Linked DNA regions of Homo sapiens: region 1 is linked to region 2. Evidence: fine-mapped expression QTL. Tissue or cell type: thyroid. Region 2 holds a variant in brackets; the other region holds the start of a gene. All regions are shown on one strand. Distances are between the middles of the regions.

Region 1 (2,651 bases), 35 kb before region 2:
TTTTCCGCGCCATTGGCCCGCCCGGCCCGCCCCAACCGACGGCGCCCTCCTGACCCAGGCAGCCTAGCGCTGGGGCCCAAGAGGCCCATCCGCGGGGAACTGCCAGCGCCTGCCCCAGGCCGTACCGTCGAGGGGGCTGTACTGGAGCGCTCACAGCCCCAACCCTGGCTGCCCTCCCTCAGTCTCAGTTCCCTCTTTCGAACCAAAAGACGCAGTGGGGGAAAGGCCGCTTCTGCTCCTTTCGTGCCCAGCCCGGGTCAGAGCATTAGGATTAGCTGGCCACAGGCGGCGAACTGGGCTCAGGCCGGGAGCTGGGGTCCTACGGTAGACCCCAGTTTGGAGAGGTTAGGAGAGGGGGTGTTGACTTCCAAAAGCTGGAGCCCCCAGACGCTTTGCCTCTTGGCTTCTCTCCTGTCAGGCCCCAGTGAGGGCACCTGCTCGGACCCTTAGAGTCCCCTCTGGAACTGCGAGTCCTCCCACCTGCCCAGACTCCGCTGGAGAGAGGGCCGGGCCGGGCGCTCGAGTGCCTCCCAACAGGGCAGCCTCCCTCCTGGCCCGGTCTAGCCTCTCCGCGCTCTGCTCGCCCCTGCTCCTTGAGCTCGGGGTCGCTTCCCTTGGCTCCCCGAGGTCTTCTGCGCCGAGCAGAGCTGCCAGTCCACCGCGCCTAGGAGACGCCGAGTACCCGCATCTGACCGCAGGACCCCAGCGCTACCAAGTGCCTGTTCTTGGACCCCCAGCCGAGCAGGGGGAAGCATCCCCAGCTCCCGCACCCAAGTCCCTGGCGCCGCTGCCGGGCCGCCCTCCCTGATGCCCAGCGCGCAGCCTGCCGGCGCCGCGCCTTCTGGACGGCTCTCGCCGCACCTCCTGAGCTCAGCCCGCGGCCCCGCAGTGGGGCGGCCTCACTTACTGGCGGGGAAGCGCGGGTCTGGGTTGGCGCCGTACCATCCGGGGCCAGAGGCGCTGTTCCTCATGGTGTCCTGGTACGGCGGCAGCTCGCTCATGTTGCCCAGGTTGCCGTTGCAGTAGCCCCCCACGGCGGAGTGCGAGAGCTGGGGCACCCCCGCCGCCGTCATGTGGTAGGCGGCGGTGACGGCGCCGTGGTGCCCCACGGCGTGCTGCTGCATGGCCGCTGTTGGCGGTGCCGCCTGGCCCTGCCTGTACGCCGCCAGCGGAGCCCCGAGGCCGCCGCCCTCCATGCCCACTTTCTTGTAGCTTTCCTCCAGGGGACTCAAGATGTCAGACACTGAGAACGGAGTCGTGTGCTTTGGACTCATCGACATGATTCGGCGGCGGCTGGAGGAGGAAGGAAGAGGAGGAAAAAAAAGGGAGAGGGGGAAGGCGAAGCCTCGCTGCTTTTTTTTTCTCCCTTTGCCAAATATTCTGGTGTTACCTTAACGCCGATCTTGTTGGATGTACACGTAACGGAGTGGACCGAGTCCTCCTTAATTGGCTTGAGTGGAGGCTCGGGGGCTGCCTCGCGTTTGTTTTAGCCCGGCGCCAGGTTTTAGGCAGCCACCAGAGGCGGGGCGTAAGCGCTAAAGCAACAAGACAATAGAAGCCTACATCTTGCCCGAGATAATTAGCTTACATGCTGATGACAAGGTAAACACCTTTAAGTTTCACTTGTCAGGATTTTTAGGTCTCAAAGAGAGAGAGAGAGAGGCAGAGACGAGACCCAAAGCATTTCCCCCCTCCCTTGGACACCCCCACCCCCATTTTTTGTGGGGTACCAGCGGAGCGCGGGGAGGAGGTGGAGGGGAGGGGAAGGAGGAGGGAACCGAGAGCGGGGAGGGCAGGAGGTGGGGTGGGGGAGTAACAGAGGAGGAGAGATGGTTGAGAGGAAGGAAGGTGAATGCTGCTTTGCAACCAACTTGCGGAGTTACAAAGTGGAACCACTTTCCAATTCGGTCGGGGTTCCCCGGGCACGGACAGGTCTTTAGGAGGAGGGGGCTGAGGGACAGGGTGGGGGTTTCACCTGAGCCTGCCGGGGCTGCTCCTCCCTCCCGCCGCGGCCTCCCAGCCCCGCGCCTTCCCACTGCCTCCGGACCACATCGGGCTTCGCTGCGCTGAGCCCCAGTCGCCAACAAATGAGCGAGCGAGTCTGGGGACGAACCCTGGGGCCGCACTGTTGGTCTACGTGTCTGTCAGTCTGTCTGCCTCTCTTCTGCCGCCGTCAGAGGGACACCTCTGCTCCCCGCCCCCTTTCCCCCTACCGGAGAGAATCCGAGCGGGCGGAGGGGGCGCTGAGTAGGGGATCGACTGCCTCCCGGAGGCTGTCCCGGATCCCCGAGCCACAACCCGCCCCCGCAGCTCAGGGGTTTTTCAGTGGGCCACCCCCGCTAACACGCCTCCCCCAAGGTCTTCCCCCCCCCCCCCCACCCCCGGCCGAGCAAACACAGCACTGGCCCCCAGAGCTGGGAGGATGGGAAGGGGTCTCACGGGAGGGTCCGTCACTGAAGTTGCCCCACCTCGAACAAACCTGGTGTCCCTGACCCTCGCCCATCTCCCAGACACGCGGGGATCTGGGGCTGGAGCTGACTTTCCGAGGACATCACAGCCCCAGCACCCGAGCCCAGAGCCACGCTGTTTTCCCCTCTGATGCTTCAGGGAGCGCGCGAGCAGGGAGCGGCGTGAGTGCCCGTCTGTCTGTT
Region 2 (2,841 bases):
CCACCTCAGCCTCCTAAGTAGCTGGGGACTACAGGTGTGCATCACTATGTCCAACTAAGTTTTTAAAAAAATTTTTGTAGAGACAGTATCTCACTATGTTGCCCAGGCTGATCTCAAACTCCTGGCTTCAAGCAATCCTCCCATCTTGGCTGCCCAAAGTGCTGGGATTTACAGGCAAGAGCCACCATGCCTGGCTGATTAGTATATTTTCTTTAAAATTTTATATCTAGCTACTTTTCCAATTTAAGTTATTAATTCCAATCATATTTAATAGAGTGTCACTGATTTTCTAAATGTGTAGCCAAACCATCCATGGGTCTTTAGGAAGACATTTGGATCCCTTTAATGTACGTGGGAACTTACATAAGCCAGAAATTCAGAAGCCATAAATGACGAACTTGGCTATATAAGATATTTCTAATTCTCACGAATAATAATAACCAGCATATATTGAGCATTATTTTAAGTAGTTTACATTTAGAAAATGCTAGCTAAAAATTAGTTCTATTACTTTTGACAACTATTAAAGCCAGCTAGCAATCTCTGTCTTAGGCACTTTTGTAGCTTTCAGTCATGGAAGCAGGATTGAAGCCAAGCAAAGATAAATTTGAGAAGAGGTAAGAATTACCAGAGAAGGAAAAAGGAGGCCTCAAATTTCCTGGAGAGTATAACAAGCGATGTGGAAAACAGTAGGGTCAGAAAGGAACCCAATACATCGGTGAACTCCATTGTAGGGAGCGCTACTTAAGAGGGGTAAAAAGGCCCCAAATCTCTCTTTTTAACCTACCTTAAGAGCAACAGGTTACCTTAGCTTTATGGAGGCAACCGTATGTGGTTGTGTGTCGGCGAGGAGGTGGAAACAGCACTGGCATTTGTTTTCTAGCAACGTGCTCAAACAGCCATTGTCTTGAACTTGGTGCAGACTTCCGCCAAGCTACATCACCTCTTAATTGATACAGCTTGAGACTATCTCCCATCACAAAGAATGCTTCTAGATCTGCCTGGGGACCTGGGACATTCCATTTCTCGTGCCAGAGAACCACAATATAGCTATCCTTCTAGTTAAACTATCCTTCTAGGGTCCTGTTAA[A/G]CCTAGTAACAGAAACTTGGTATCACCACAGCAAATATTAATCAATATAATAGTTAGTCTCTGCATTCTTTGTTATTCCATCCCTTACTGCCTAGAGAATTTGCATGTCACATTAAGCAGTGGTGTTGGTATTAAAATGTGTGACCAATCTTGAAATGTTTGCGTCTTAAAAAAAAAAAAAAAAAAAAAAAAAAAAAAGTTGTGCTCAGCGTCTTGCAGGTAACAGTCCCCTCCACCAGAGGTCTCTAGCTCACTGACATTATCTGAATTTATAATAGCTCTTCCAACAGGCTATGCTGAATCTGTGAGGTCCAATAGAATAGCCACTAGCCCCATGCAGCTATCTAAATGTAAATTAGCTAAGATTAAATAAAATTAAAAATTTAGTTCTTTGGCTGCCCTAGCCACATTTTAAATGCTCAAAGCCACATGTGGCTATTGGCTCCAGTATTGGCTAATACGGATATCTAACATTTCCACCACTGCAAAAAGTTCAAGTGGATATGTTACACTAAGTTCTGTTAACTCACAAATGTAGAAATAGCATTTCGGGATCACAGTGTTAAAAGGACAAAGAGGCAGTATCTCTCCTGTACTGTAACTGAATCCTCCCTTTATCCAGGTGGTATCCTGGGTGGATGATGACAATGTTCTTTGTGATCATATTCAGCTTATTTTTCCCTCACAACCAGCACGTTGTATCACTATATTTTAATAATTCATAGATATAATTTCAATTCTTCTCTTATTGAGAAAATCAGGGCTGGCAAATTTTAAGAAAGAGATATGGTTTAAAAAAAATCAGAAGGCCTTAATGCCATCCTCAACTCTACGCCTAACGAACTGAGAGCTCTAGAGAATGTTGTTGGACTTCTCTGGGCCTGCATTTGCTCCTGCATGAAATAAGTGGGCAATTAGATGTTCTCTAAGACCTCAAACACTTGAACCCATACCCACAGTGCAGCAGGACTGTTGTGTGTGCTCCTTGTAAGTAAAACTAATCTCTGACCCATCCAAGAGGTTCCAGTATGCTAGAGCATGTGGGAGGCTTCTGCCTCATGTCAAGACGTGCTCTAAAGTCACAGAATTGTGTTGCTCCAAAATGGCAGTGGTCAACACAATTGGCTGGCAGTTTAGACCACATTAGAAGATAATCGCTATTTTTAGTATAAATATTATTTTCCCTTTTATCTTAAGGGATAGTACCAATTCCATTCTTTATTGCTAATAAGTTACCAGTAGTATATCACTGCAGTGAGAATATTTCAAAATAACCCTGTAGCTTTATTCCAAAGACCTCAGTTATAGACTTACTCTCATTTTGTGGTCACTCCAAAAACAAAAACAAAAGCCTCCTTAGGCAGATCCCTCAATTATTCCTCTCTGTAAAACATCATTCCTTGAAATGGACATCACTCTTTTCATAAAAACGTGACATAGACTATATTCTATATTCAATACACTCTCATGGAACAAGTAAGATTTTTAATTATTTTGAAGAAAAAGATGAGCTTATTTTCAGTTTTCAGATTCCAGCTTTTCTCAACCTCTGGATGAAAATATTTTTACACCTGGAGTTTCTCTTGCAGTTAGCATTCATCCGTCAGTAAGTAGGCCAAATCCTTGTTCACTTGCAGGTAGTCCATGGCTTAACATGTCTGTAATTCACAGAAGGCTGAATATGGGGTAAATAAATAAAACTGAGCTTAAGGAGAAAAACTATGTGGGAGGAAGGAAGCGGATGATTAAAA

Evidence for each region. PIP is the estimated chance that this variant, and not a neighbour inherited with it, causes the effect.
Region 1: it holds the start of NKX2-1-AS1, and the variant in region 2 is fine-mapped to the expression of NKX2-1-AS1 in thyroid (GTEx, PIP 0.95).

The regions. Positions count from the first base shown.
Region 1 is chr14:36,518,078-36,520,728 of GRCh38, forward strand. It overlaps NKX2-1-AS1 (NKX2-1 antisense RNA 1), which reads left to right and starts at 1,201. Exons shown (of 2, transcript NR_103710.1): 1 at 1,201-1,602. NKX2-1 (NK2 homeobox 1) reads right to left here and starts at 2,155. Exons shown (of 3, transcript NM_001079668.3): 1 at 1,976-2,155; 2 at 908-1,293. The coding sequence starts at 2,052. SFTA3 (surfactant associated 3) reads right to left here and starts at 1,479. Exons shown (of 5, transcript NR_161365.1): 1 at 1,391-1,479. RefSeq lists enhancers at 1-412, 1,571-2,570, 2,571-2,651.
Region 2 is chr14:36,552,521-36,555,361 of GRCh38, forward strand. All of the region lies in intron 1 of LOC105370453 (a long non-coding RNA gene), which reads left to right. Among named protein-coding and RNA genes, the nearest start is that of NKX2-8, 29 kb to the right of the region's middle. The variant A/G (reference allele first, on the strand shown) is at 1,091.